2 linked regions of the Homo sapiens genome follow. The protein of the gene in region 1 interacts with the protein of each later gene in a pairwise test. Each region holds a gene or a part of one and is shown on either strand. Other genes may lie near its edges. The genes, in order: UBL7 and AP1G1.

Region 1 (16,116 bases):
GGAAGGATTACTGAAAGAGGGGGTATATCTAAAAATGGGTAGGATGGGAAAGGGAGACTTTGGGAACAGCCATGGGTTCCTAATGCGCCCACAACATACATGGGAGTTATCCTGAAGATAAACTCCCTGAAGACAGTGAAAGCCATTTCAAAACTCCCCATATAACTTATGAGAACAGAGGGGTGATCTGCCTTTAATGTTAGGCCTTCTGAGATCCTGCGATCTGTTCGCTCTCCTCAGTAACATTACCCTGCTCAATTGCTGCCTTAATCCCAGGTCGCACATTGGAATGTGGGAATTCAGCGTTTACATTTACCCACACAGGATCAGCCTTCAGCTGCTACGATCAACTTCAGTATTTTCATATAATCACTTTTTTCTTTCCTTAGTTCTTGAATTATTAATTCCTTGAGAAGAGTCCAATCAGAGGTAGTCTTTCTTCAGTATTTTCGGTAATCCTAATTTCTGTGCAAAAAAATTTCTGTTCCATTTTAACCGTGCAGAACTTTCTGTTATCTAAAACACAGTTTCTCTATGAGAGTTCAGTGAAAATTCCCCTTCCCAAACTGATTCTATGAATGACTGTTAGATAAGCTTCACCACTGCATGTAGAGGGTGTACCAGGAACCCAAGTTAGTAGCTCTCCTCAAAGACCCAACTTTTGGAGGGGGTCATCGTCTGGTTCCTGGTATGCCTCCACAGGTAGGTCCGCCTCAGGAAGTCAGCGGCGAGGAGCACAGAAGAGGCTGCCTTCACCAACGGACAGCAGTTTTCATCGTGAGGGCCGTCGGCAACCGCTTGGATGTGTCTAAAGGGGCCGTTTGGGAACCGGCCCTTCTGGAGGGAAGGGTCGGAGTGGGAGGGGATCCGGGATCCGCCTTACGGCCGAGTGTCCAGCAGCGCGTTCCAACCTGGCAGAACCGACGTACTTCATATGCTCCTCAGGGGAGCGCGGGAATCACCAGGCTGAAGAATGACTGGAAATGGGACCCTCTCCAACCAAAGCACCCAGACATTCCGGCGCCGGACATTTCAAAGAGCGCGGAAGCCACGCCTTCCCCCAGAACCGGAAGCTTTGCAACTAGCGCCTCTTGTAGACTGGCTGTTTATAAGGGGGCGGGGGGCCACAGCGGGAACTGCAACTCCCAGAATGCAGCGCGGAATTTCCGGTTTCCGGCGAGAGGGCCAGAGTGAGTGTTTACACCGGCGGCAGTGCGGCCGGGTTCCTTCCGCGGGACGGGTGAGGGCGCTGGGGCCCTGGGCAGCGCGGGCTCGATGTGTGTCAGCCAAGTAGCTGGTCCCACTGGAGCGGTGAGGTCGCCACCGGATAGTGTTCCTGCCCCATTACTAGCGATCTGTGACCTTGGGCCAGTGATTTTACTGAGTCTTGCTTCCCTCATCTTTAAAATGTGGCTAATGCCTGCCTTAGGGAACCGTTGTGAGGATTAAGTGAGACATGGTATATAAAACGACCTCCTTCTGGCATAAACTTGAGGTGGAAGATACCTTGAGGATGCTTGAAGGTCTGCTAGGCAGCTTCACAGCCTTTTCTTTCCTCTTCTCTATCAGAGGTCTCTTTGGAAGCAATAATGATGACTATAACAAGAACTTATCTTGCTTTGCAAGATTCTTCCGCCGTCAGAGTTTCTGATTTATTTTCTGGGGTTCCATGTATGCCAGGTATGGGGACAAGGATGAAGAAAACTTTAGTCTTTTGTTTTCAAGGGCATTCAAGAATTGGGGTGGAGGAGGGGGCAAGCAGATATTTGTAGCCCTTTTGTTCTGAGGGGATGTGGGAACAACAGAGGAAAGAGAGGGGACTGAGGTTATTGAATCTGTGTTGGTTTCGGTAGGAGTTTGCTAAAAGGCCAAAAAGGGAAGAGAAATTACATGCAGAGTTAGATGAGCAGAGGTGTAAAATAGGGGAGAGCTTTGTTATGAGTGTGTACTTACATGTTGTGGAGGTCCTTTGCAGGGGTAGGGCTCTGTTGGGGAATGAGGCTGGCAGGGAGTTTTGTAAGCCAGGCGATGAAGTTTAGACTTAATTTATATAGATGGTTTAGAGGTATTGGAAGAGGTCTTTTTCTGGGGGGCCGGGGTGGGGCAGGGAGGGACGGAGTCTCTGTCGCCCAAGCTGGAGTGCAGTGGCGCTATCTCGGCTCACTGCAACCTCCACCTCCCGGGTTCAAGCAATTCTCCTGCCTCAGCCTCTCAAGTAGCTGGGATTACAAGCGCCTGCCACCACGCCCTGCAAATTTTTTCTATTATAGTAGAGATGTAGTTTCACCATGTTGGCCAGGCTGGTTTCAAACACCTGATCTTAAGTGATCCGTCCTCCGCGGCCTCCCAAAGTGACAGGATTACAGGTGTGAGCCACCGCGTCTGGCTTTTTTTTTTTTTTTTTTTTTTTTTTTTGCGACAGAGTCTCTCTCTGTCACCCAGGCTGGAGTGCAGTGACGTGATCTTGGCTCACTGCAACCTCAGCCTTCCGAGTAGGTGGCACTACAGGTGCGCACTACCACGCCCAGCTAATTTTTGTATTTTTAGTAGTGACGGGTTTCACCATGTTGGCCAGGCTGGTCTTGAACTCTTGAGCTTAGGCAATCCGCCCGCCTAGGCCTCTCAAAGTGCTAGGGTTACAGGCATGAGCCACCGCGCCCAGCCCGACATTGGAAGAGTTCTAAGCAGAGAAGTGACTTGGTCAGATCTGTGTTTTAGAATGATGGGTTGTGGCCAGGCGCAGTCGCTCATGCCTGTAATCCCAGCACTTTGGGAGGCCGAGGCAGGTGGATCACGAGGTCAGGAGATCGAGACCATCCTGGCTAACACAGTGAAACCCCGTCTCTACTAAAAGTACAAAAAAAAAAAAAAATTAGCCTGGCGTCGTGGCGGGTGCCTGTAGTCCCTGCTACCTGGGAGGCTGAGGCAGGAAGGCAGGAGAATGGCGTGAACCTGGGAGGTGGAGCTTGCAGTGAGCCGAGATCGCGCCGCTGCACTCCAGCCTGGGCAACAGAGCGAGACTCCGTCTCAAAAAAAAAAAAAAAAATGATGGGTGTTGTTAGGTGGCAGCATAGATATTTGATAGGGAGAGGCAAGAGGCAGGGAACTTGTTATAAAGCTGTTCTACTGGTTCAAGCAACAGTTGAAGAAAATTGGAAAAAGGGGCATACAGAAGGGAGAGGGTTAGATGATCTCTCTCACAACATTCCTATTAGATTGGATGGCGTTTTTATGTCCACGTTAGGGATGAAGAAACTGAGGCCTAGAGAGCTGTCCATCACAGTATGAGTAGAGAGAGAACCCCAGATTCTAGTTCTGGCCTCCTGATGGTACGCCCTATGCCTCTTCAACAGTGTCACATTGAATTGTCTTTCATTCAACCCTTTGGTGGGTGGGGGTGGAGTAGAGTGGTGGTCTGTCTTTTAACCACTGAGGTTTTGTTCTTTTACAGGGAGAAAGAGAGAGCGCGAAAGAGAGAGGATGTCTCTCTCAGACTGGCACCTGGCGGTGAAGCTGGCTGACCAGCCACTTACTCCAAAGTCTATTCTTCGGTTGCCAGAGACAGAACTGGGAGAATACTCGCTAGGGGGCTATAGTATTTCATTTCTGAAGCAGCTTATTGCTGGCAAACTCCAGGAGTCTGTTCCAGACCCTGAGCTGATTGGTGAGTCTCTCTGGACTGGGGTTGGGCTGCTGCTCTGATCTCTTTTGGGGGAGGATACTTCTGGAATTACAAGAGTAAAGTAAGGGCTTGGGATTTGTTGCCTCATAATGTTAACACTCCAGGGAAGTGAATGTTGGGTAAATAGAAACACAAATCATATAATGAAACTATTGGTTGCCATTTCAGCCATGTATTATACTGAACTACCTTATCACCAGGTTCTTTATGACATTGTCTTGTTTTTTGTTTTTGTTTTTGTTTTGCTGTGTAGCCCAGGCTGGAGTGCAGTGGTGCGATCTCGGCTCACTGCAACCTCTGTCTCCTGGGTCCCAGTTCAAGCAATTCTGCCTCAGCCTCCCGAGTAGCTGGGATTACAGGCACACACCACCATGCCCAGCTAATTTTTGTATTTTTAGTAGAGACATGGGATTTCACCATGTTGGCCAGGCTGGTCTTGAACTCCTAACCTTGTGATTCTGCCCGCCTCAGCCTCCCAAAATGCTGGGATTACAGGCATGAGCCACCGCTCCTGGCCAACATTGTGAATTCTTTTTCTGAAAGAACAGAAGTTTGGGATGAGTTAGGAAAGGAGAAGTTGGTCAGGGGAGGCTCCTCAGTATATTTGAGGTAGGTCTTCAGGGATGATTAGAAGGATTTTTGCTTGGTTGACTGAGTAAAGGAAAGGCAGTAAAAAAGAAAAAGTGGCGTGGGCAGTCCAGGTGGAGGAGGGAGGAATTTAAATATAATTAAATTACACTGAAAAGGTAATTTTTAATAGCTAAAGGATCCAACTGGCAAGAAAGATGTTTTCAGTCATACCTGGATTGGGTTCATCCTATTTTGTTGTTTTTCCATTGATTTAAATTGGGCAGCCTCCACAATGTTAAACTCCAGAGTTTTTCTGTGGATAGATTCTGTGTGAATCCTTTTTTTTTTTTTTTTTTTTTGAGACGGAGTCTTGCTCTGTTGCCCAGGCTGGAGTGCAGTGGCGAGATCTCAGCTCATTGTAACCTCTGTCTCCCAGGTTCAGGCAATTTTCCTGCCTCAGCCTCCTGAATAACTGGGATTACAGGCCCGCACAACCACAACTGGCTAATTTTTGTGTGTATGTGTGTATATATATATATATTTCTTTTTTTTTGAGACAGAGTCTTGCTCTGTTGCCCAGGCTGGAGTGCAGTGGTGTGATCTTGGCTCACTGCAACCTCCGCCTCCTGGGTTCAAGCAATTCTCCTGCTTCAGCCTCCTGAGTAGCAGGGATTACAGGCGTCTGCCACCATGCCTGGCTAATTTTTGTATTTTTGGTAGAGACGAGGTTTACCATCTTGGCCAGGCTGGCCTTGAACTCCTGACCTCAGGTGATCCACCCACCTCGGCCTCCCAAAGTGTTGGGATTACAGGTGTGAGCCACCGTGCCCGGCCCTAATTTTCGCCATGGCCCAGGTTTCGCCATGTCGGCCAGGCTCCAAAAGTGCTGGGTTTATAGGTGTGAGCCACCACATCTGGCCAGATTCGATGTAAGTCCATTTTATGAGTTTATATTTGCAAATAGTTGTTGAAATGTATTTAATTGGCTAGGCATGGTGGTTCACGCCTGTCATCCCAGCACTTTGTGAGGCTAAGGCAGGAGGATCCCTTGAGCCCAGGAGTTAAGAGACTAGTCTAGGCAACATGGCAAAACCCCGTCTCTACAAAAAACTACAAAAATTAGCTGGGTGTGGTGGCATGTGCCTGTAGTCCCAGCTACTCAGGAGGCTAAGGTGGGAGAATTGCTTGACCCCAGGAGGTTGAGGCTGCAGTGAACCGTGATGGTGCCATTGCACTCAAGCCTGGGCAACAGAGTAAGACCCTGTTTTCCAAAAAAAAAAAAGTATTTGTTAAGTTATTGAATAAGAGTATCTTTTAAAACATGTATCATTCTCCAGCTATCTAATCAAAATAAGGTTCTCGGGACAAAAACCATGTAAATTTGTTTTGAGGAGCAAAATATAAGTGGACAGTTCTTTTTTTAGATCTGATCTACTGTGGTCGGAAGCTAAAAGATGACCAGACACTTGACTTCTATGGCATTCAACCTGGGTCCACTGTCCATGTTCTGCGAAAGTCCTGGCCTGAACCTGATCAGAAACCGGGTGAGTGAGGGGCAGCCCTTAGGCAGGCAGAGTTTCTGTAATATCCGCAAGGGAAGGATCTGTGTGTTCTTGAGGCACAAGCCTGGGTGGAACAAAGGGATGATTTACTGAGCTGATGATAAATGATATCTTTATTACTTATTGGATTAGACCATGCTGATAAACAGAGTCCAATTTTGACCTTCTTACTGCCGGCATCACTAATGGAAGATTTGTTTCTCCATTTTGTTTTTTGTTTTTTGGTTTTTTTGAGACAGTCTCACTCTGTTGCCCAGGCTGGAGTGCAGTGGCACAATCTTGATCTTGGATCACTGCAACCTCCGCCTCCCAGGTTCAAGTGATTCTCATGCCTCAGCCTCCCGAGTAGCTGGGATTACAGGCATGAGTCACCATGCCCAGCTAATTTTTTTTTTTTTTTTTTTTCTGAGACGGAGTCTCACTCTGTCTCACAGGCTGGAGTGCAGTGGTGTGATCTTGGCTCACTGCAAGCTCCGCCTCCCGGGTTCACACCATTCTCCTGCCTCAGCCTCCCAGGTAGCTGGGACTACAGGCGCCCACCACCAAGCCTGGCTAATTTTTTTTGTGTTTTTTAGTAGAGACGGGGTTTCACCGTGTTAGCCAGGATGGTCTCGATCTCCTGACCTTGTGATCTGCCCGCCTCGGCCTCCCAAAGTGCTGGGATTAAAGGCGTGAGCCACTGTACCCGGCCTTCAATTTTTGTATTTTTAGTAGAGACGGGGTGTCTCCATGTTGGTCAACCTGGTCTCGAACTCCTGACCTCAAGCCATCCACCCCACCTCAGCCTCCCAAAGTACAGGCACCATTCCTGGCTTGTTTCTCCACTTTCTAAGTTTGTCATCCACTGTTTCCTAATGGGACAGGGAGTTTGTGTCTACTTAAACTCCTTTAAGTTAACAGTTTATTTTTTAGTGATACAAAGTAAACTTTGTATCCTTTTGTTATTATCGTTGTTCTCATTAGAAAAAAGCTGGAAACTTTTGGCACTTTCCTAATGCTGCAGTTTATTCCCTTGTTAACAAATCTTCCTACAAACTGCCTCAGGTGGTGATTTGTTCAGTTAGCTAACTGCTCTTGCTATACTGGTATTTTCCTGAAGATATTCAAAGAGTATTTAAATAGCTCTTGGAGAAAATATACAAAGCCTCAGATGCCTTTTTGGTTTATAAATAGAAGGTGCTTGGAATTCATGATTTAAATTTTGCATGTGTGTTTTAAAAGCCTCCCTAAGAATAAAGCTAAGCTGTGTAAAAGAGATTAGCTTTGTTACACTGGCAGGTTGACATCTTTTTATAATGTTCATGATTGCTGTGACTAGTTATCAGTTTGAAATTTACCCCCCTTTCAGTTCTAACTGTAAAAGACAAAAATGTCTTTCATACCCTGATGGGAAGTGAGAAAGAGGAACAGAGTTCCTGACATCCAGAGGTTGGCCTGGCACTCACAGCCAGGCCCTGGAATCCTTTTGGGGATCATGAACAATTGTACAGATCCCCAGTAGCAGTCAAGGCCACTCTGAGACCACTATGGATTAAGACAAAAACAAGATCCCTATTATTGCTGAACAGAAACACAAAAACATGAGCATTATCCAAACCACAAAGGTGACCAAGTATCTTTCTATCTTGGCTGATGAGAGTAACAGCTGCTTCTTGGCCAATTACAGCTTCCACCTTGCTCTAGTTTTCCTTCCTTCTAGGTAAGAGTTATTAAGATACTCAATTATAAAATCACTCCCACTGCCTGAAAGCATCCTATCCAGAGTAAAACCTCACTTCTTTAAATTTTTCCCCAAATCAGCCAGACAAAACCAAAATCCTGTAAGAAGTCCTTTCTGGCCGGGTGCAGCAGCTTACGCCTGTAATCCCAGAACTTTGGGAGGCCGAGGTGGGCGGATCACCTGAGATTGGGAGTTCGAGACAAGCCTGACCAACATGGAGAAACCCCGTCTATACTAAAAATACAAAATTAGCCAGGCATGGTGGTGCCTGCTTGTAATCCCAGCTACTTGAGAGGCTGACGCAGGAGAATCGGTTGAACCCAAGAGGCAGAGGTTGCAATGAGCCGAGATCACGCCATTGTATTCCAGCCTGGGCAACAAGAGCGAAACTCTGTCTCAAAAAAAAAAAAGTCCTTTCTAATATCCTCTTACTGAGACAGCCCACGGTTTCCTGTGGTGTGCATTCTTCTCTCTGTACTGAGCAGTAAACCCAACTTGTTTAAATACAGATATGCCCCTCAGCTCTTTGGCTGGAGGGCATTAACAGAAGGAAAATAACATTTGTGGCTTCTGTGAGCCAGGTTTTTTCCCTTTTATACCTCATTTAATCATTACAGTGGCCCTGCAGGGTAGGTAACAGCATTAGCATCTTATGGAGGAAGAAAAGGGTTAGGGCATTTATTCAAGGTCAGCTACTTAGAAAGTGAATGCAAGAGCTGGGATATGGACCAGGGGTTTTCCTGGCTCAAGAGGAAAACCATTTCCACTGGGCTGGCTGCGTTCCACTTCTAAAGGATGAATTTAGCTCAGAGATCTTACAGTGACAGCCATGGCTCTTAGCTGAATAATGGCTTAAGATATTAAGAGTCCTTTTCCTCCCACCTTCTACCTGGAGGATTATTTTTGAAACAAATGACCTTTTTATTGGAAGGTTACAATAAACTTTTAGATCTGTAAAGAAACTGTTTTGTGACAGTGTTTTAGATATTTGCTCCTTGAGTGCTTTTCTTCACAAAGGAATCACATTTTGTGTTCTCCCACAGATTAGGGCCTATAGGAGAAGAACCCATTGTTGTCTGTCTTCCCACCTGGATCTCTTTGGTAGTCCTCCATGGCGGGTTACAAATCCCTTCAGGACGTCACCTTAACCTGCTGTTTGAGCTGGAATGTGTACCCCAAGCTCCAGCCACAAAGAATGACTTGCTGTTTGTTCAAAGCACCACATTCTTTTATTCTCCCATGCCTTTGCACATGTTCTCATTCAGGCTTGGAATACCTTCACCCCCCCAGTAAATATCAGCTCTCTCTTTGATACCCATTTCAAATGGTCTCCTCTGGGAGGCAGCTGTCTATCTTCACCCTCCCTCTCAGTGGTGCCTGTCTGCCTTTGTGTTCCTGGTACCCTAGCTGGGATCCACGTCTCTGTTGAGGTCTTCAACGTGGCATTTTGTAATTGTGTATTTGATGTAGTCTCATTTCTCCTCCTGCCCTAAGAGTTCCTTGATGGCAGGGGTTCTTATTTTTCATATTCTAGTTCCTTGCCTAAAGCCAGGCATGGAGTAAATGCTTAGTACATGTTTGTTGAATGAATAAATTAGGTAATTTACTTAAGATGACTGTTTTTCAAAAGACAGCCTCATGATCAGGACTGTCGATAAGGATGTGGCTGCCACCCTGAACCCCAGGGGTGCTATTCACCTTGCTTTGGGAGTGGTGCCCTGGAGTTGGGCAGTACACAGTCAGTACAGTCACAAGTAGTGGTCCTTCGTGAGGATAACCATACTTTAAAAAGTGTGACCCAGGGCTGGGCACGGTGGCTCACGCCTGTAATCCTAGCACTTTGGGAGGCCGAGGTGTGTGGATCACTTGAGGTCAGGAGTTTGAGACCAGCCTGACCAATATGGTGAAACCCCATCTCAACTAAAAATACAAAAATTATCCAGGAGTGGTGTTGCACACCTGTAATCCCAGCTACTCAGGAGGCTGAGGCACGAGAGTTGCTTCAACCAGGGAGGTGGAGGTTGCAGCGAGCCGAGATTGCGCCACTGCATTCTGGCTGGGCAAGAGGTGAGACTGTCTGAAAAACAAAGGCAAAAACACCAAAAAACAAATGTTATTAGTCTAGAATTCCTGCAGTGGTATGTTGATCAGAGCACCGTTTTTCATGTGGTAAGAGTCTCCTCTGCTGCAACTTGAATTTGTTTGTTTATCTGTGCAAGATGCTTACAAGTGAATGTAAAGATGCTTACTAGCAGTTTTCACATCCATGGCACAAATGGGTTTTTCTGAGCAGGCACTCACATTCTTAAGGGGTGATGAGGGAAGGGAATGCACAGACCAGGCTGCTCCTTGGCACATGCTGAAATGATGTTGCCATGTCTGTGGCAGAGACAGGACCTGCGCTATAGGGTAACTCTGAATGTCTTGTCCCCCAGAACCTGTGGACAAAGTGGCTGCCATGAGAGAGTTCCGGGTGTTGCACACTGCCCTGCACAGCAGCTCCTCTTACAGGGAGGCGGTGAGTGTGTGCTGCGGCCCCCAGCCAGGACTGTAGGAGAGGGTGTGAACGCTGGCTGGCGAGTGGTGTGGAGTGGGAGCTGGAAGCCCGTTGCCATGGCAACCAAGAGTTCCTTGGGGAGTTTTTGCCATGTCTGTGGGCCTCAGTAGAGCCCTGTCTTTCCCCAAAGAGCCTGTCTCAGTCAGGCGTTGTTGATTCCCTCTAATGATAATAATACAACCTGCCCGTATGGTGACAGCCAAAAGATCCTCATACTGTTTCTGCTGGGCCTCATTCTTCGACTTTGGCTGAACTGCCTGCTTACTGCCCCTTGACCTAGATGTCCTCACTGGGGAAGTGGGCTGATGTCTTTCTGTAGGAGAGTTGAGAGGCAAAATTAGTATAGCTGTGAACTTAGCGATATATACAAATATGAAATAGTAATTGTACAGAGATTGAAAAGGACTTTTGGATTGGAACCTAGAGAAACCTTTGTTACCGGGCTTGTAATGAGAGCTTTTATTTTGGAAGCACTAAACTGTAGGTGGGGAAAAGGAGCACAGAGATTTGAAGGTTTACTGTGGTCTTGCCTTTTTTTTTTTTAAATTGTTTGTTTCCCCTCCAGTAAGCTAAGATCTTAGAGCAAAAAGAGGTTCATCTGTTTCTGGGGCTATTGTTCCATTGTGGTGATGTACATGCAAGCACTTAGAGGGAGGAAGTCCTTTGGCAGAGTGTGGGCATTTGATGAGTACATTGAGCTGGTTGGAGTGCTCAGCCCCCGCCATTTCTCCTGCAGGTCTTTAAGATGCTCAGCAATAAGGAGTCTCTGGATCAGATCATTGTGGCCACCCCAGGCCTCAGCAGTGACCCTATTGCTCTTGGTAAGTGCAGGACTGAATTTGAGGAAATAGGAGTTGTCGGAAAAGGAGAAAACAGGAGAAGACAATTCCTCTAAAGAGACTTGGACTATCTTTTGAAGAATGACTGGTCTTGTGGGAAGAGGGAGAGTAATCAAGGTGTGTTTGATATCCCCAGCCCTTTAAGAGCTCTCAGTCCCACAGAGAGATAATGGCCTAACTAACATCGTAAATAAGGGTATGAGGATGCCAAATGAGGATAGCAGTTAGCCCACATCACAGCAATCAGGGAAGGCGTCCTGCACACCCTGAGTAAGGGAAGAACCCAGAGATACGGGAGAAAGAGACAGGTGTCTTGGTACCCAGTCTGTGATGTGACTAAAGTGCAGGGGAGGTGGAGAGCAGGGGACCATCCTCACTAGACCAAGATGAGGAGTACCTGAATTGTATTGCTTGGCGCTTTGCTTCCTCTACTTCTCATGAAGATTGGCTTGTTGTCCTGTGTCCCTGTTGAGCTGGTTGCTCTGAGACGCAAAGCCTCTTCTCCCTCCTGGATCTGGCTGATTTCCTTTCTTTGAGGTGAGCTCTGCTCTTTTTCAGGGGTTCTCCAGGACAAGGACCTCTTCTCTGTCTTCGCTGATCCCAATATGCTTGATACGTAAGTGTACCTGTCCTATTAGAGGGTACCTTCTCTCTCCTCGTGCTCAGGCCAGAAGCCTAATTGTCACCCTGCAGTCTGCTCTGGGAGCCCATCCATAGTCTGTCACCAAGTCTACCCCTTAGATACGTCAGGGGGTGAGAAAGAGCAAAGCCCAAGAGCAGGGCTTTTGTCAAGAGTGCTGGGAGGAAGCAGGATTCTGAGGGAAAGGGTCTTGTCTGCCAGGCTCAGTTTAGGTTTCGTGTGGTAGAAATTAGGGAGCTTTTCAAGGATTTTAAGCTGGCAAAAGGAGAAGCAGGTGTACAGATCCGTAAAGTGTCAAAGCTAAAAGGGACATGTCCTCATTTTGCAAGTGAAGAAAACAGCCCCACCCTGGGAAGAGAAGGGACCAGTCCAGGGTTGCCTGATGTAGTAGTGGTGCCTAGACCAGACACTCCTCATGTGCTCAGGCCAGAACCCTGAGCCTCCCAGGCTGCACCTTTCCCATCATGCCTTGCCTGTGGAGAGGGTGAAGAATCTGCAGCGGACCCCAGGAATTTGAAGGCCTTGCACCCGTTGCTGGGGGCAGATCAGCAGGAGGATAAAGCTTCCTGGTGGAAGATGCTAAAGACTGAGGAATTTGAGAGCAGGCACAGGTGGCTGCATTGTTGTGAGGGGGCACCCAGAACTCCTGTTATGGCTGAGGGTGCTCTTTTGGAGTCACCCTTGGGTTTCTTCCTGCTTCTATCCTAGGTTGGTGCCTGCTCACCCAGCCCTCGTCAATGCCATTGTCCTGGTTCTGCACTCCGTAGCAGGCAGTGCCCCAATGCCTGGGACTGACTCCTCTTCCCGGAGCATGCCCTCCAGCTCATACCGGGATATGCCAGGTGAGCGCCTGAAAAGTGTAATGTGGGCCCCTCAGGAGCCGGCAGTGGCCCAGGAATTTGCTTTACTCAGCAGCTATGTATAGCGTTGGCAGAGGGCGTTCCTTGGGAACTCTCGGTTTGAGTCAGGAAGTGCATCTGTCCTGTAATTTTCCGAGGGGAGAGATGAAAATATGAATTTGGAGAGTAACTTGAGCTGAGATTCTGGAGCTGCGCCTGTGCCTTTCTGTTCTTCCTCCTGAAATCTGTTCGTCCTCCTCCAGGTGGCTTCCTGTTTGAAGGGCTCTCAGATGATGAGGATGACTTTCACCCAGTAAGTGGCCTGCCTGCCTGCCTGACATGCTGACATGTGGGGGAGATGGTGCTGGGAATGAGCTGCATCCTGGGACCTGGCACTCCCAAGGCTGGGAGATGGACATACGCCATTGGGGGGCCAAGACCATGTCATACTATTTCTGCTTTTGGATTCCTTTCTGAACCTGGGAACTTAAGAGTTTCCCCAAGAACTATTGCTGGAGGTGGGTGGAGTTCATCTGGGAGTTTCACAGTACTGCTTCCCTGATTCTGAGTGTCTTCTTTCTCCAGAACACCAGGTCCACACCCTCTAGCAGTACTCCCAGCTCCCGCCCAGCCTCCCTGGGGTACAGTGGAGCTGCTGGGCCCCGGCCCATCACCCAGAGTGAGCTGGCCACCGCCTTGGCCCTGGCCAGCACTCCGGAGAGCAGCTCTCACACACCGACTCCTGGCACCCAGGTATGAAGACGGGGCCGGGAAGATCAAGGCTGGGCCCCCAAGGAACAAGCTCCCCAGCAGTAGAGTAGATTTGCCTTTGCTGACCCTGGTGCTAGATCTAGTTTAAGCTGAACCCTGGAGTCCTGGTGGGGATTTCTTACTGCAGCTTGAGTGACCTCCCCTTCACTTGCCTTGAGGACTCAGAAGTCTAGATTTTAACATGGTCCCGTGTAGTCCCCCCTATTAGTTCAGAAGACTCTTCCTGCACACAATATGCCCTTCCTCATCCCTGACAGGGAGCAGACATCACCAGCTTAAGCATTTCTGGGTGACAAGTCACTTCAGCTTTCAAGGCCATCTCTCCCAGTGCTGCAGTGCTGGGGTCCTAGGCTGGGACAAGGGGCTCAGTGCAGAAGAGAATGGAACCTTTCCTGCCCACATAGAGAGCTTCTAGTTACCTTTGTTTGGTTGTCTTATGGCAGGTCTTTGTTGGGAGGCAGAAGTTGGGTACCTCAGGAGTGCTGTGAGGTGATATGACAACAGCGAGCATCTGCTATAAGATTGAGATGGCGCTGAGGGTGGCACTGACCACTAATTTGTCTCTAGGGTCATTCCTCAGGGACCTCACCAATGTCCTCTGGTGTCCAGTCAGGGACGCCCATCACCAATGATCTCTTCAGCCAAGCCCTACAGCATGCCCTTCAGGCCTCTGGGCAGCCCAGCCTTCAGGTCAGTCTTCCCCACGTCTTGGTTTCCATGTGGCTTCCTTGTTATTTTGGATGCCCAGCCTTTGTTTTGCTCTCTGGCGGTCCTTCACACCTGGCATGCTTCATTCTAGGAACAGCTGGAGCATGGCAGTGGGACAGGTGCAGAGTGTTCCTAGCAAGGGCACACTCTCAGACCATACACAGTGGTCACTAGGCTTCTCCTGCCCCTAGTGACCATGGCCTGACTCCCTAGACCACCTGGCTTAGATAATCATGGCCATTTCATTCATTCATTCAGTGATCATTGACTGAGCATGTGTATACTAGGCCTGAGTCCAGATGCTGGGCTAGTGGCAAGCTGGTTCTCATCCCTGCCATGGAGGGGCACCAGGCAGGCACTGAGCTGGGGAGCAACAAGGCAAGAAACCCAGCTGCTTGAAGTAAGGGCCTAGGTCAGACAAAACTTTTCTGAGAGAGGGGTATTTAAGCTGATTGTCAGAAGAATTAGTTAGAAGTTAGCTAGCCAGGGAAGGGGGTTTGAGGTAGGAAGGGGCTGATTTCCAGGTGAAGACAGCTACCTGTTTGTGCACATGTGTGGAGGTATATGTGACATACTCAAAACTACAAGGCTAGGATGCAGTGTCCAGTGTAGAAGATCCGCAGATGGGGCCAGAGAAAGAGCAGGAGCCTACGAGAGGGGCTTGCATGCCAACCTGCGGAGATTAGACTTGATGACTTGATGTAGCAGTCACCAGGGATCCCTGGGAGGCATTGATTGATTGATTGATTGATTGAGACAGGGTGTCACTCTGTCACCCAGGCTGGAGTACAGTGGTGTGATCACAACTTACTGTAGCCTCAACTTCCTGGGCTCAGGTGATCCTCCCACCTCAGCCTCCCGGGTAGCTGGGACTACAGGTATGCACCACCATGCCTGGCTAATTTTTTGTATTTTTTGTAGAGATGGGGGGGTCTCCCTATGTTGCCCAGCCTGGTCTTGAACTCTTGGGCTCAAGCGATTCACCCACCTTAGCCTCCCAGAGTTCTGGGATTACAGGTGTGAGCCACCACACCTGGCCCATGGGAGGCTTTAAGGAGGAGAAAGGTCACCCTAGCAGCTAAGTGGAATACCTGAGGGGCCAGCATTGTAGTTCACAGCTCCATGCATGAGCAGTTTGGTTCACGTCTGTTTTCCTCTATTCCACATAGTAAGCCTATGGGTAGAGCATCATCCCTGGAACTTGTCTGGGGTCATAAGGCCATGAAGTCGTAACGATAGGGTTCAAGCCTGTGTGGTTTTCACTGTTCCATGTGGTCCTTGTAGACAGTGAGGGAACAGAAGCAGGATTCGTGAACAACTTGTCTTCTCCATTCTTGCATCTCCCCTGTTGCTAGATGCCTGTTTACTTTATTCCCTAGCTCAGAAGCTTTCACTGGTTCCACCTGGCCTGTAAAATGAATTCAAATTGATCTGTGTGCATTTTTTTTAAGCCCTCCATGTTCTCATCACTGCCTGCCTCTTTGACTTTGCTTTTCTTCCCCTTTGCATTGCCTTCTTCCCACATGTGAACACGTTGTTTTCCCTAAATTGTGCTCATCCCTGCTGTCATGAAATAGAGATATTAATGAAGCTATGAAAGTACTAGAAGAAAATATGGGTGAATTTCTTCAAATCCTTATAGTAGGGAAGGGCTTTCTTGGCTGAAACTCAGTATCCAGGAGCCATTAAATAAAAGTTATGCATTTTGGGTTTGTAAAAGCGAAAAATTTAAAACATCTCTTACAGTCCACAAATAGATATACCTACTATATACCACAAAAATTTAAGACATTTAAAAAAAGGTGAAAATTTCTGCGTGGCAAACCAAACCAAACAAAAAACCGAAGCAAAGTCCAAAGGCTAACAAACTGGGAAAAAAATCTGTAACACTCATCACATAAAGAGCAAAATCTTGCTGTTGTGTGTGTACACATAGCAAGAGAAAGAAAGTAATTTAGCCTCTTGGAATTCAGACAGTGAATAATTTGTACATTCTCTTTTGATCCTTATGCCAAGAATTTCCTTTTTTTATTGTAAAACTTTGGATTTGTTCTCTTAACCCTCAAGCCTATCTTTTAGTCTTCCTAGAAGCACCGTGTTCTGTGGAACTCAGCATCAGCAGCTTTGCTGAGGACTCCCCCATCTTCCTTTCCTTCCCCGGAAAGCACAGACCTAAGTGAGTCTTCACTGGATCCCAGCTAACAGCTTCTGCCCATTCCTATCTTTCC
Region 2 (16,116 bases), on another chromosome or scaffold:
TTATGACAGCATATTAATATATTCAATCTATGAATAATTTATAATTGATAGGAAATACCACTCTAATGGAAAAATTGGTATTTGAACCAGCAATTCATGAAGAAAGAAATGGCTAATTAACATTTGAAAAAATTTTCTTATTAAAGAAATAAAGTAAAATTGAGGTATCATTTTTCACATTTCGTATTTTTTAATCTAATTCCCAGTGTTAGAAAATAGAGAAACAGGCAGTACTCTTCACTTTATGGGAGTATAGGATGATGCCATCTTTTTACTATGCAGTTTGGTAGCATGTAGGAAAAGCCTTAAATTGTACCCTTTGATTCATTAATTCAATTTTTAGGACTTTAGCCTGAAAAAATAATAGGACAAGTACACAAAAATGTGTATGTAAAAGTATTCATCCTAATATTGTTTATAGTAGGAGAAAACCGGAAACAACTAGTAGTCCCCAAATGGGGATTAAGTAAATTATGAAACATCTGTAGGGAGAAAATTATATCATTGAAATTATGACTTATATGTATTTGTTGACTTATGAAATTATGACTTATATGTATATGTATTTGTTGCTGTGGAATTCTCTCTGGGGCATACTCGTTTTTTAGTTTACTTACAATGAATTAACTTGGTAAAAGGTTAAAAGTTAATAAATTTGATTAGCAAGGGGAAAAATTATAATCTAACAAAATGTAATTAACATAATGATGAACAGGACATGTTTTCCTAGTTTTCATGAGGCTCAAAAGAAGGGAGAAATTAACACTCCTGAAGGAAAGTGTTTATGAGAATTCAAAAGCTTTTTTTTTGTGCCCCTGATTTTATTTTTCTAACTGACTTGTGTTCTCTTATGATCATGTGATTTGTTTTCTTTAGCCTGTTACATGCTGGGTTACATTGATATTTGAATGCCTAACCAGCCTTACATACCTGGAATACGTGGTCAGGGTATATTATTCTTTTTATAACTTTGTTGGGTTTGATTTGCTAATATCTTGTTGAGTATTTTTATATGTGTATTCATGAGAGAGATTGGCTTATAGTTTTCTCTTATAATGTTGTTTTTGACCCATGTGTTATTTAGAAGTATGTTCTTTTAATCTCCAAATATTTTGGGATTTTTTTGCACCTGTCTTTGTGTTGCAGATTTCTAGTTTAATTCTGTGTGGTCTAAGAGCATACTGTCTATGATTTATGTTATTTGAAATTTGTTAAGATATTTTTTATGACCCAGAATATGGTCTTTCTTGGTTCAGTGTAAGTTTAAGAAAAATGTGTATTCTGCTGCTGTTGAATGAAGTAGTCTTATTATACAAACCCATTAGATCACCCTGATGCTTTCTTGTATTTAATGCACTCTGCTTTACGGAAGGATGTAAATAAACTATACTGCAAATTACCTGCTTTTTAGCTTCTCACCTTTCCTTCTGATCATTTTCCCAGAATTCTTCCTCTGTCTTTGTGTTTCTTAACAGGAGTGACCTGATAAAACCCTGATCACCTGGCTGTTTTTTTTTTTTTTTCTTTTTTTTCCTTTCCAAAATACACATGGTTAGGACTGGTCTCAGTCTTACAAATTAAATCTATTGTTCTATTTAGGAATGGGAGATTGACCAAGGTTGGGTGATAAAGTTTTAAACCTTTACATTATTATTATTATTATTATTATTGTTGGTAGTGATGGAGTCTTGCTGTGTGGCCCAGGCTTGTGTCAAACTCCTGGCCTCAAGCAGTCATCTTGCTTCAGCCATCCAAAGTGCTGCGATTACAGGTGTGAGCCACTGTGTCCAGCCTTCCTTTTTTAATTTGGACAAAGAGAAATTTTTTTTTTTTTTTTTTTGAGACGGAGTCTCAGTCTGTTGCTCAGGCTGGAGTGCAGTGGCGCAAACTCGGCTCACTGCAAGCTCGGCCTCCTGGGTTCACGCCATTCTGCTGTCTCAGCCTCCTGAGTAGCTGGGACTACAAGCACCCACCACATGCCCGGCTAATTTTTTGTATTTTTAGTAGAGACGGGGTTTCATCGTGTTAGCCAGGATGGTCTCGATCTCCTGACCTTGTGATCCACCCGCCTTGGCCTCCCAAAGTGCTGGGATTACAGGCGTGAGCCACCACACCCGGCCTTTGGACAAAGAGAAAATTTTTAAAAATAAAATAAAATTTAAAAATGTAACATATTTAAATAAGACTTTGAAGTTTGAGCTGTTATGAACCTGAGAATTGGAACCAAATTTATCTTTGAGGGTGTTTTCTGGTATTCTTCTTTTAAAAACAATAGTAATGGCTGGGCGCAGTGGCACACGCCTGTAATCCCAGCACTTTGAGAGGCCGAGGCAGGTGGATCATCTGAGGTCAGGAGTTCGAGACCACCCTGACCAACATGGTGAAACCCCATCTCTACTAAAAATAGAAAAAATTAGCCAGGTGTGGTGGCATGTACCTGTAGTCCCAGCTACTTGGGAGGCTGAGGCATGAGAATCGCTTGAACCTGGGAGGTGGAGGTTGCAGTGAGCCAAGATCGCGCTATCGCACTCCAGCCTGGGTGACAGAGCGAGACTCTGTCTCAAAAAAAGAAAGGAAAAAACACACAGTAATAATAATAGCTAACACTTGTTATCATCATTTCTGTGTGTTTCTAGGGGTAATTGTCTGCATTTCCTTTTAGGCAGGAAGTTATGTTCGTGATGATGCAGTCCCCAATTTAATCCAGTTAATAACTAATAGTGTGGAGATGCATGCCTATACTGTCCAGCGCCTGTACAAAGCAATTCTTGGTGATTATTCTCAAGTAAGTACTTCATTCAACTATTTTAGGGGGTAATTTTACCCTCAATTTTTCTGGTATGTTTTTCTTCTTTTTTTTCCCCCCTCCTCTCTCCCCTTTGGTATGTCTTTATTTCTAACACTCTAGATATGCACAGTTTTGATCTTTATTATGAGATGACCTATGATTTGCATTAAATAACTTTGGAAAAATTGAAGTTCTTGAGAAACGTTGACTTTTCTTTTCACAGCAACCTTTGGTACAAGTGGCTGCATGGTGTATAGGTGAATATGGTGATCTTCTTGTATCTGGCCAGTGTGAAGAGGAAGAGCCTATTCAGGTACTCCTTGTCACTCTTGGTTAAGTGGGGGAAAATAGTGGTTTTGGTTATAGGAGAGTAGTGTTTAATGGGGAGTTGAGGTTGATTCCTTGAAAACTTTTTAGGCCAGGCGTGGTGGCTCATGCCTATAATCCCAGCGCTTTGGGAGGCTGAGATGGGAGCATCGCTTGAGCCCAGGAGTTTGAGACCAGCCTGGGCAACATGGTGAAACTCTGTCTCTACAAAAGACACAAATATTAGACAGGTATGATGGTGTCTAGTCCCAGCTACTCAGGAGTGAGACCCTGTCTCAAAAAAATTTAAAAAATACCCAACTTTTTAAAGAAGCAAACGCGAATTATATTGGAAAACCTGCCATTTTTTGAGATGGAACTTATTGAGCCATTGTGAGGTTTTTTGTTTTTTTTTTTTTAATAGAGTCTCACTCTGTCACCCAAGCTGGAGTGCCATGGTGGGATCACAATTCACTGCAGCCTTGATCTCCTGGGTTTCAAGCGATCTTCCCACCTCAGCCTCCTGAGTAGCTGGGACTATAGGCAGGCACCACCCTGGCTAGTTTATTCTACTTTTTTTTTGTAGAGACAGGGTTTCACCGTGTTGCCCAGGCTGGTCTTGAACTTCTGGACTCAAGCAATCTGCCTGCCTTGGCCTCTCAAAGTGTTGGGATTAACAGGCATTGCTGAGTGTGGTGGCTCATGCCTGTAATCCCAGCACTTTGGGAGGCCAAGGCGGGTGGATCATGAGGTCACCTGCAGGGTGGTTAGCCAGACCATCCTGGCTAACACAGTGAAACCCTATCTCTACTAAAAAGTAGAAAAAATTGGCCGGGCGTGGTGGCAGGCACCTGTAGTCCCAGCTACTCGGGAGGCTGAGGCAGGAGAATGGCGTGAACCCGGGAGGTGGAGCTTGCAGTGAGCCAAGATTGCGCCACTGCATTCCAGCCTGGGTGACAGAGCCAGACTCCGTCTCAAAACAAAAAAAACAAAAAAAAAACAAAACAGGTGTGAGCCACTTTGCCTGGCCCCATTGTGAGATTTTAAAACCACTTTAGGCCCAAGTCTCTGTCCTAGTGGACTGAATTACTGTTTCTCTTACCCTCTGGCTGGTAAACAAGAAGAAATGAGACATGTATCCATGTTCTTATTTGCACATTAAAGGACTGGCTTTAAAAGGGAAAATTGTGGCAACAACACTTGAACTCTGTATGTTTTTCTTTTCTTCTTCTGTTTCTGCCACTTGAAGCTCTAATATTGCCTCTCAGCCCCAGTGGTCATTTTTCACTCTTTTTACCCCCACCTGCTCTGGTTGATAGAACCAGAGCACTTTTTTTTACCCCCAACTACTCTGGTTGATAGAACAGCTTGGACAGTTACCCTGGCAAAGCACAGGTTGAGTTAGAGGCTTTTGTAACGGTAGGATTGTCTTTCTGGCTGCTTCCCCTGACTTGATATCAGATTTAGATGCTTAATCATGCTACTCATTCTTCATCGTCTTCTTTTTCCTCCTCCTCCTCAGGTAACAGAGGATGAAGTGTTGGATATTTTAGAAAGTGTCCTAATCTCTAATATGTCCACCTCTGTGACACGAGGTTATGCCCTCACTGCCATTATGAAGCTTTCCACTCGATTCACTTGTACTGTAAAGTGAGTATTGAAGAAACATAGGGTGAACAGGTTGTTTTGTAATTAAAAAACAAAAAAAATCCCAAAAAACTTGTTATCATGGAAAATTTCAAGCATAGACAAAAGTAGAGAGAATAATAACACAAATTTCCATTACTTATTTCTCCACAGTCACAGTGATCAATTTGTGGTTAATCTTTATTCATCAGCACTTTGTTCCCTCTCATTCTTTTACTCCCTTGTGGATTATTTTGAAGCAGAAAAGTTTAGGGGGTTTTGTTTGTTTGTTGAGACAGGGTCTCGCTCTCTTACCCAGGATGGGGTGCAGTGGCGCCATCATATTTTACTGCAACCTTGAACTCCTGGGCTTAAGGGATCTTCCTGTCTCAGCCTCCAGAGGAGCTGGGACTATAAGTGCACACCATCGTGCCTGGCTAATTTTTACATTTTTTTGTAGAGAAAGTGTTTCGTTTGTTTGCCCAGGCTGGTCTCAAACTCCTGGGCTCAAGTGATCCTCCTGCCCTGACCTCCCAAAGTGCAGGGATTACAGATGTGACCCACTCCACCTGGCCTAAAAGTTACGTTTTTAGAATGAGATTTCTAATACCTTTTTTTTTTCTTTTTAAGTTGAGAATCTACTTCCCCATATAAAGGTTTTGGTTTATTTGTATTTTATATTTCATTTTATTTTATGACAGAATCTTGCTCTGTTGCCAGGCTGGAGTGCAGTGGCATACAATCTCGGCTCACTGCAATCTCCATCTCCAGGGTTCAAGCAATTCTCCTGCCTCAGCCTCCTGAGTAGCTGGGATTACAGGCGCACACCACCATGCCTGGCTAATTTTTGTATTTTTTGGTGGAGATGGGGTTTCACCATTTTGGCCAGACTGGTCTCGAACTCCTGACCTTGTAATCTGGCCAAGGTTTTGGTTTATTATATTTTGACAAGTCTTAATAGGAATAAAATCATGAATGTTTTGGTGATTAAATCTTTTAATTCTCCTCTTTGCTTTTTTGAATAAAGTAGATTCTCAGGTCACTTTCCCACCCAAGCATATTTAAGGCCAACGTAGTTCTTGTAGTCTTTCTGCTTCACTTTTAAATGTGAAGTCTTATAAAAAATGGTATTGAATTACTTTTAAAATTCTGAACTGGAAGAATTTGGGGTCAACATTTTGAGGCTCTGACCCTTTTATAGATTAAAAATTATTTAAAAATTATCAAAGAAGAGAATGAACAGTACAAATTTCTTTTGTGGCAAAGTAATAGTTGGTACTTTTGTCTAGCAAAGTTTAGGGAGTGGCATATATATATGTGTTTTTTCCACACCATCATTGTTGCTGAATGGGGATGGCATATTTAACAGACAAAAATCTAGTGTTACAATGAGAATAGTATAATGCGAATGTCAGATAAATGGATGAAAGTAAAGTGTTTTGTTTTTGAAAAACTATATAAATTAAGAAAAAATGAGTATTTCAGTATTTTAACCAGAAAATTCTGGCTTATTAAACATTATCTCTGCTTATTTGTGAATTTTCTTTTGGGTATTTTATTTCGTTTGTCATTTTATCTATAGCCGAATTAAGAAAGTGGTTTCCATCTACGGAAGCAGCATTGATGTGGAACTCCAGCAGAGGGCAGTAGAATATAATGCACTTTTCAAGAAATATGACCACATGAGGTGAGCGAAAGAAACTAAGCAATGCGTGTATCTCTTAGCATCCTGACTAAATTGTCATGGTAATCCATAAAGAAGATTCATTCCTTGTGCTTTATTAATTGTTCCTCGTATCCCTATTTAGTTCTAATTGCTTGTCTGCTTCTGTTTTGTCCATCTTCTATTCTGCCTAGTCTCTAAAGAAATAAATTAACTCTCTTTCATTCCACCTCCAACACTTACACTTTTTTTGATATGGAAAGTTTGCTTTATTTTCTATTTTATTTAGTTAAGAAGTGGGAGGCCGGGCGTGGTGGCTCACGCCTGTAATCCCAGCACTTTGGGAGGCCGAGGCGGGCAGATCACGAGGTCAAGAGATCGAGACCATCCTGGCCAACATGGTGAAACCCCGTCTCTACTAAAAATACAAAAAAATTAGTTGGGCATGGTGGCGCATGCCTGTATTCCCAGCTACTCGAGAGGCTGAAGCAGGAGAATCATTTGAACCTGGGAGGCGGATGTTTCAGTGAGCCAAGATCATGCCACTGCACTCCAGCCTGGCGACAGAGCAAGACTCTGTCTCAAAAAAAAAAGAAGTGGGAGTTGTATTTTTTCAAGACAAATAATCTCATTCAAATTCTTTTACTGTTAACATTCTAGTGTTTGGGTCATCTTTTATTCTTCTATTATACAGTATCTTCTTGACTGTTAATACCTATGGATTTACCTTTCTTTCATCTCAGTCTCTCTACCACTGAAATATATGCTTTGGGATTTAGCTGGGCAGTCTGTTTATTCAAGATTTTTTTGTCTGCCCTTAATCCAGCCAGGAATTTAGGTCATGTATTCTTGTAATCTACCTTCTATTTTAGTGTGTGTGTTGGATGGGGAGGGGAGATAGATCTCCATGCTTGGGCTCAACATAGTTAATGGTGATTATTTTGGGTAGGGAATCTAGGTTAACTGCCTAGAATTTAACCACTTCAGATTCTTCTAGGTCTGCCCTACTTGAGAGAATGCCTGTCATGGAAAAAGTGACCACAAATGGCCCTACTGAGATTGTGCAGACAAATGGAGAGACAGAACCAGCTCCACTAGAGACCAAACCGCCACCCTCTGGGCCACAGCCCACCAGCCAGGTAGCCAGCCTTTCACTTGCTCATCTGGGGCTTCTTACGATTTTATAGTCCCTTACAGCTTGTCTCTTAGCTGAGTCCCTTTAATGTTCCTGGGTTGGTTGATGATTTCCTTCCTTATTTTTACATATTGAAAGAGCTTTGCATTAGATGTATACTAGACAAATCAAATAATAATGAATTGAGGTGTTGTTACCTTGTTTAGGCCAATGATTTATTGGATTTGTTGGGAGGAAATGACATAACACCTGTTATTCCAACTGCGCCTACAAGCAAACCATCTTCTGCTGGTGGAGAACTTCTTGATTTGCTGGGAGACATCAACCTTACAGGTGAGGCAGTCTGGAGCTATTTAATACCTGGGAAAAGATAGAGGCCTCAGGGAAAAACTAAACTGAACCCAGACTTTCCAGCACGTGAATCATTTGAAGATGGGAGAGGCTAAATCAGAAGCAAGAGTCAAATCTTCACAATATCCGGGTTATATGTTGTATACTAATAATGCTCTAAAGATAATTTATACGGATTTCTTAAAGGCAAACTCCTAATTTTGGGTGAATAAATTATTCATAGTGTTTTAAGATAGAAACTACTTTTCCTGGCTGGGCGCAGTGGCTCATGCCTGTAATCCCAGCACTTTGGGAGGCAGAGGCAGGTGGATCACCTGAGGTCAGGAGTTCTAGACCAGCCTGGCCAACATGGTGAAACGCCATCTCTACTAAAAATACAACAATTAGCCGGGTGAAGTGGTGCATGCCTATAATCCCAGCTACTCCGGAGGCTGAGGCAGGAGAATCGCTTGAACCTGAGAGACGGAGGTTGCAGTGAGCCGAGATCGCGCCAGTGTGTACTGCAGCCTGGGTGACAGAGCAAGACTCTGTCTCCAAAAAAAAAAAAAAAAAAACACACTTTCTCTTTCAAGCTCAAAAAATATATCCCGTATCACCTTTGCTTTTAGTGTCCCAAGACATGACTTCTTCTTGGTTCCTTCCCACTAATGGTTAGTTTTCAGTAGCTGTGGCCATTTGTGGAGAGATGTTAACCTGCTACTTACCTCTTCCCTTTCACACTTTCTGTAATTAAAGCAACTGAAGGGCAATCACTCATAATATTCAAACATAACTTTTCATTTGGGAATATTTTTTCTTCTGTTCATATATACCAGTCATTTGTAATTGACATGTTCAGCAATATGATAAACCCGAGTCCAATACAACTTTTATTTTTATTTTGAGATGGAGTCTTGCTCTGTTGCACAGGCTGGAGTGCAGTGGCACGATCTCGACTCACTGCAACCTCCGCCTCCCGGGTTCAAGCGATTCTTCTGCCTCAGCCTCCTGAGTAGCTGGGATCACAGGCACGCACCACCATGCCCTGGCTAATTTTCGTATTTTTAGTAGAGATGGGGTTTCTCCATGTTCGTCAGGCTGGTCCTGAACTCCTGACCTCATGATCCCCCTGCCTCGGCCTCCCAAAGTGCTGGGATTACAGGCGTGAGCCACTTCGCCTGGCCTTTTTTTTTTTTTTTTTGAGACAGAGTCTCACTCTGTCACCCAGGCTGGAGTGCAGTAGCATGATCTCGGCTCACTGCAGCCTCTGCAACCTGGGTTCAAGCAGGTCTCCTGCCTCAGCCTCCTGAATAGCTGGGATTACAGGCGCCTGCTACTGCGCCTGGCTAATTTTTGTAGTTTTAGGAGAGACAGGGTTTCACCATGTAGGCCAGGTTGGTCCCGACCTCGTGATCCACCCACCTCAGCCTCCCAAAGTGCTGGGATTACAGGTGTGAGCCACCACGCCTGGCCTACAACTTCTATCCTAAATTTCAGTGTAAAGTATAGCTGAAAGGTTAAAGTGTCTTTTTTTTTTTTTTTTTGAGACAGAGTCTCACTCTGTCAGCCAGGCTGGAGTGCAGTGGGATTATCTCGGCTCACTTCAACCTCTGCCTCCTGCGTTCAAGTGAGCCTCCTGCCTCAGCCTCCTGAGTAGCTGGGATTATAGGCGAATGCCACCATGCCCGGCTAATTTTTTGTATTTTTAGTAGAGACGGGGTTTTGCTGTCTTCTTTAAGAGGATAATGAAGAGTTAAAGCACACATGACCTTGAGTAAAAAATAGACATAGGATAACAAGTTGGATGGTTAGCTAAGCTCATTCCCACAGGCTGATTTTTTTTTTTCCTAATACAGTGGAGTCACAGAGTATAGGATTTATGTCTGTGTCTTAACAAAATTTCAAAATGTTACTTGTCATGTACTTATGAATCATTTACAAATGGTCAATTTCAAATCCTCAAATGTCAAAGCTGTACTGGATAACCGGCAAAGAAAAAACAACCCCACAGTTAAACCATAGCATATACTTCACCTAATATGTTAGTATTTCCATGTTAATATATATAGCCTTCATAATTATAATTTTAGGTGACTAATACTTTATCAACAAATTTGCTCTGTTTACTCAGTTCGTTAGTATTGGGTAGTTTGGCTTTTTTTTTTGGTTTTTTTGAAACGGAATCTTGCTTTGTTGCCCGGGCTGGAGTGCAACAGCACGATCTCGGCTCACTGCAACCTCTGCCTCCCGGGTTCAAGTGATTCTCCTGCCTCAGCCTCCCGAGTAGCTGGGATTTATAGGCACGTGCCACCATGCCCAGCTAATTTTTGTATTTTTTTATTAGAGATGGGGTTTCACCATGTTGGCCAGGCTGGTCTTGAACTCCTGACCTCAAATGATCCTCCCGCCTTGGCCTCCCAAAGTGCTGGGATTACAGGCATGAGTCACCGCACCCAGCCAGTATGGGGTATTTTGTTTCTAGATTTTTCTTACCTAGCGGCCTCAACAAATATTACATCAATTTGTTCTTATTTTAGATTAATTTGTTAGACTAAGTGACTTAGTCTTTCTGAATCTGGTTAAAATTAGGATGATTAATACTTACTCCATAAGATATTTGTGAGGCCCATTGACCTATTCAGTGCATGATACATAGTAGGCACTTGGTAAATATTATTTACCTTTTCCTCAATTTATATGTTTAACCGCACAGTCATAAGCATTGTATATTATCATTTTAAAAAGCCCTATTGGGTGAAAATTTGGTCCTATTATATTTTATTTTTATTATTATTTTTTAAATTTTGTAGCCCTCTGCCAGGCTTGGTCAGCAGAGAGAGGCCCTATTATTTTTTGATCACAGAGAATGTTTAATATTTATTCACATATTTGTATTATAGATGAGGTTCCTTTCTGAACATTCCTGTATCCTTAGCTCATTTATTGTGGAGTCTTTTCTTTTTGTTCCTACTGTCTTGTTTTCCTAGTGTTATATGTTAAAGCAAAATGATAAAATGTTAAAAAGTCTGGGTTTTCTTGCCTTATTCATAATGTGTTTTAAAGATGTTTTTCCACTTTTTACATTAAGTTTTAAAATTTTGAATTCTAGATTTCTTAATTTATCATTACAGTTTTACCCCATTATATAGAAATTTAAGTCAGTAGAAATTCAGAATAGATTTAACATGTGTTTTTAAAGGGTTTGGAGCAGTAAGTTTCTGCTCTTCTCCTAAACTACCTTGCTATACTTTTACAGGACAAAGAAAAGTGAAAATTTGAGGGAGTTGGGGACCTATATGCTGCCTGTATCTTGAGTAGCCTCTGATTTTCCATGAGAACACATTTCTAAAATTGTTTTGAAAATGGGAATTGGGGGAAATTTTCTCGATTTGATTTTTTAGACTAGGAGAACTGTATGAATATTTCTTTGTCTGCTTCATTGATAATCTGCTGGACTGCACAAATGGTGTTTGCATTTATTTTAGCTTCTCGTGCTTGCTTAGCCATCCGTATTTCTATTCTCTTTGCTAATTTTTAATATGTCATTTACTTGTTTTTGTTTTTGAGATGGTGTCTTGCTCTGTCACCCAGGCTGGAGTGCAATGGTGTGATCTTGGCTCACTGCAACCTTTGCCTCCCAGATTCAAGCGATTCTCCTGCCTCAGCCTCCCGAGTGGCTGGGACTATAGGCGCGTGCCACCACACCCGGCTAATTTTTGTATTTTTAGTAGAGATAGGGTTTCGCTGTGTTGGCCAGGCTGGTCTCAAACTCCTGACCTCAGGTGATCCACCCGCCTCGACCTCCCAAAGTGCTGGGATTACAGGCATGAGCCATCGCGCCCAGCCTGTCATTTACTTTTCTAGTATTCTTTAGTATCTTTTTTCCCCCTCATTCTTGCTGTCAATTTCTTAAAAAAAGATGATATTCTAGCCTTCCTTTATTTCATTGTGATAGTTCTTTTTTAAATGGCATATTTTCAGTTAATTTCACAAGTAGTTTGAAATCTATTTAAATATTAAATACATTCTCTTAATTTTACTGAATTTCCTTATGCTTCTTCTTCGAATCTTGATATCCCTCATGTTCTATGAATTATCTTCTATTGTATGATTGTCAAGTTGTTCTTATTTGGAAAGATTAAATAAGAATGGTAATCTATTTCTTTTTCCCACCCCACTTTATACCACCCCTCACAGGGTGCGTGTGTGTGTGTGAAAATTTTATTATACAGCATTTAACATCTACAAAATTTAATGAATGTTTTGATCTACCTAGTTTGTAAAATAAAATATTAAGAGGGTTGATGTTCTTTGTGTATTTCCCTCTCATCCCATTTCTTTTTGATTCCAGACGTAACTACTGTCTATCCTAAAGTAGTGTTTAACATTGGTGTTTGCCATTCCTGTGCATTTCTTGATATAGTATGTAGTATTATTTTGCCAATTTTTACCTTTTTAGACAAGGTATCCAACTGAATGTGTTCTTTTTTGCACCTTTTTTTGCTAAACATTGTAATTGTGAGAATGAGTTATGAATAATCCATGTTAAGTGTATTTCTAGTGAATTCACTTTTTACTGTTGTACATGTGTAGTATTTTAGTATATCAATATATCAGTTTACTTATTCATTATCAAGATGACAGACATTTTGGTTGTTTCCAGTATTTCACCATTAGGAGTGTTCCTGCTATGAATGCTTTTGGATGTATCTCCCAGTGAACACATGCAAGGATTAATTAAAAGCATTCCTAAGAAGGGGTAATCGGTTCTCAACTGGGGAAGATTTTGCCCTCCAGGGGTTGGCAGTGTCTGAAGATATTTTTGGTTGTTACAACTGGGAGGATGCTACCGTCTAATGCATAAAAGCCCAGGGGTGCTACTTAATATCCTACAATAAACAAGGCAGCCCCCTACAACAAAGAATTAGGAAGCCTAAAAGCTATTACTGTCAAGGTTGAGAAACCTCAGTTTAAGGATATACTGATGTTCAACTCTACTGTTGCCAAATTACTCTCTAGATTGGTTGTGCCAGTTTACCTTCCTATAGCAGAGCTTAAAATTTCCCATCGTTCCATCTTCTTGCCAACATCTGGAATTATCAGACATCGAAATTTTCACCATTCTGGTAGACATGAGGTAGTATCTCACTATAATTTTAAATTCCACTTCCATCATTACTGGTAAAATTGAGCATCTGTTTGTAAGATTCCCTTTTCATTCAGGTTTCCTCTTTTGTGACTTGCGTGTTTTTATATCTTGACACTTTTAAATTGGGTTATCTGTTTCTTATTGGTTTTATAGAAGACAGTTATCGTTTGGATACTTATCCATTCATTACTGTATAGCAAACATTTTCTCCTGTCTGTGGGCTCTCTCTCTTTACTTTTTTTTTTTTTTTTGCGACAGAGTCTCGCTCTGTCCCCCAGGCTGGAGTACAGTGGTGCAAGCTCACTGTAGCCTCAACTTTCCAGGCTCCAGTGATCCTCCCACTGCAGTCTCCCAAGTAGCTGGGACTACAGGCGCACACCACCATGCCTGGCTAATTTTTGTATTTTTTTTTGTAGAGACAGGGTCTCGCCATGTTGCTCAGACTGTACTTTTTCTTACAGTATTTTTTAATAAACAGAAGTTGCTCGTTTTAAAGTACTTGAGTTTTTAGTTCTTTCTCTTTGTGGTCTATGCTTTTTGCATCTTGTTTAAGGAATCTTTCCTTAACCTGAGACCGAAATAATTTTCCCTATAATTTCTTGGTAAGCTTTGTCATGCTGCCTAAGGTTAACTTTCCATTAAAATATTTCCTTTAGGTGCTCCAGCTGCTGCTCCTGCCCCTGCCTCAGTCCCACAGATATCCCAGCCCCCCTTCTTGTTGGATGGGCTTTCATCACAGCCTCTCTTCAATGATATTGCTGCAGGTACGATGACTGTTGTTACCATCATTACATGGAGCACTGAGTAATGAGATGTGGTTATTAAGAAAAAGAAGTAATAATTCTGCAAGCATTAGGCTGACTACAATAAGACTTATCTTCCTGTACTTTCTCAGGCATCCCCTCCATCACAGCATACAGTAAGAATGGCTTGAAGATAGAATTCACCTTTGAACGGTCAAATACCAACCCCAGTGTAACAGTGATAACGATACAGGCCTCCAACAGCACAGAGCTAGATATGACGGACTTTGTTTTCCAAGCTGCAGTACCAAAGGTACTACAATGTCTTCTTTAGATGTTTCCTTTGATTAAAGATTGGCTGGCTTTTTTTTTTCATGTGTTTGGTAAAGGATATGTTTTAATGTTTACAGATTAAATTTGTAGACTTAATTCAAACTAACAATAATGTAGCTTATGGTTCATGGAAGCATATCATTTTTAGTGAATAATTTTTACTAGGTTACAAGTATTCTGATGGTTAGCATTGTAGGATAAAGAAAAACAATTCTAATAGTAGTGAGAGCAGAATTCTACGAGGTGATCAGTTAATGCTCAGGGCATTGAGGATAGGTTAGGCTTTAGTAATACAGTGTTAAAGACCTAAAAACATAAAATATGGCATAGGATTAAAGTTAAGTAAGATGAGAGACTTTGTCTATCTGGTATTATCTTCTAGTTAACCAGATCAGAATTGAAATTTTTTCTCTCTTGATACATAAATGAGAGAAACATTCCTCCTTCGTTAACATCCAATTTATTATAGATACAGTAACTGTTTTTGTGAATCAAGGTTTGGTTTACACCAAATTTTAGTTTAAGGATATTTATGTTCATTTATGAATAGTGAAAAATCTTGAGGCCGGGTGCAGTGGCTCACGGCTGTAATCCCAGTACTTTGGGAGGCTGAGGCAGGCAGATCACTTGAGATCAGGAGTTCGAGAACCTGGCCAACATGGTGAAACTCCCGTCTCTACTAAAAGTACAAAAAAAAAAAAAAATTAGCCGGGCGTGATGGCAGGTTCCTCTAATCCCAGTTACTCGGGAGGCTGATGAGGCAGGAGAATTGCTTGAACCCAGGAGGCTGAGGATGCAGTGAGCTCAGATTATGCCACTGCACTCCAGCCTGGGTGACAGAGCGAGACTCCATCTCAAAACAAACAAACAAAGAGTTCTAAATAAAGAAAAGTTGAGAATGAGGAGTGGGTAGTTTTTCTTAAAAAGATGAGACAGTAAGTATTTTAGGCTGCTATCTGGTCTTTATTGGTACTCAGTTCTGCTCTTATAGTACAGAAACAGCTGTAGATGACATGTAAATGAATGAACATAGTTCTGTTCCAATAAAATGTTATTTGCAAAATCAGATGTTGGGCGATTCTTGGCCAGTGGGCCATAGTTTGCCAACCACTGGTTTAGACTAAGCTAACCTAATCTTGGCAGTGGCATGTGAAATATGGCATTTAGACATTCCGACAACACACTTGGACTTGGAAATTGAGGATGTTTTCTTTGTTTGTGGGTACTGCTGACTTTGCAGTCTTTTTTTATTTTTTCCCCATCCTCTGACTCTCATGCAACCCTCTTTGCTTACACTTTGTAGGAGCCAGAATAATTTAGATGTTTAAGAAGCAGTTAGCTGGACACGGTATCTCACGCCTGTAATCCCAGCAATTTGGGAGGCTGAGGCGGGTGGATCGCTTGAGCTCAGGAGTTTGAGACCAGCCTCAGCAACATGGTGAAACACCATCTTTACCAAAAATACAAAAAATTAGCCAGGTGCAATGGTGCGTGCCTGTGGTCCCAGCTACTCAGGAGGCTGAGGTGGGAGACTCACTTGAACCCAGGAGGTGGAAGTTGCAGTTAGCCAAGATCATGCCACTGCACTTTAGCCTGGGTGATAGAGTGAGACGCTGTCCAAAAAAAAGAAGAAAAAAAAGGGGAGCAGTAGTGTCAATTGGTGAAAGACCACTAATGAACTCTAGAGCCATTCTGTTTGGATTTTAGTAGTAGTTGTATGACATGAAGAAAGTCACTGAACCTCTATGCCTCAGTGTCTTCATTTGCAAAGAGGGTGGTGATAATGATAGCCACTTCCTAAGGTTGCTTAAAGGAATAAATAAGTTTTTTGAATCAGGCACTGTTTGAAGCACTTTTCATCTGTTCAGTGCTCAGTATATTTAGTTTCTTCAACTTAGGTTTTATACTTGTTACTTTAGGCTGCTGCTCTAGTGACTTATCACTTCTGCTATTAAAACATGACATTTTTGGTGGTGTACTGTACAGTGCAACATGATAATGTATTTTCAACTTAAAATGTCATATTTTGCTGGGCGCGGTGGC

The links.
Region 2: the proteins of UBL7 (region 1) and AP1G1 interact in binary tests that used the Homo sapiens proteins (3 or more experiments, as listed by UniProt).

What each region holds. Positions count from the first base shown.
Region 1 is NC_000015.10:74,446,232-74,462,347, reverse strand, and holds the start of UBL7 (ubiquitin-like protein 7), read left to right. Parts: upstream 1-1,187; 5' UTR 1,188-1,311; exon of another isoform or gene 1,312-1,589; coding exon of another isoform or gene 1,590-1,680; intron 1,681-3,244; exon of another isoform or gene 3,245-3,329; intron 3,330-3,451; coding exon of another isoform or gene 3,452-3,480; coding exon 3,481-3,664; intron 3,665-5,676; coding exon 5,677-5,796; intron 5,797-9,969; coding exon 9,970-10,052; intron 10,053-10,827; coding exon 10,828-10,912; intron 10,913-11,488; coding exon 11,489-11,546; intron 11,547-12,278; coding exon 12,279-12,412; intron 12,413-12,672; coding exon 12,673-12,722; intron 12,723-12,994; coding exon 12,995-13,162; intron 13,163-13,747; coding exon 13,748-13,870; intron 13,871-16,116.
Region 2 is NC_000016.10:71,736,879-71,752,994, reverse strand, and holds part of AP1G1 (AP-1 complex subunit gamma-1), read left to right. Parts: intron 1-2,662; coding exon 2,663-2,785; intron 2,786-3,011; coding exon 3,012-3,101; intron 3,102-4,616; coding exon 4,617-4,744; intron 4,745-6,302; coding exon 6,303-6,407; intron 6,408-7,380; coding exon 7,381-7,522; intron 7,523-7,724; coding exon 7,725-7,851; intron 7,852-13,653; coding exon 13,654-13,761; intron 13,762-13,892; coding exon 13,893-14,053; intron 14,054-16,116. UniProt on the Homo sapiens protein: Subunit of clathrin-associated adaptor protein complex 1 that plays a role in protein sorting in the late-Golgi/trans-Golgi network (TGN) and/or endosomes.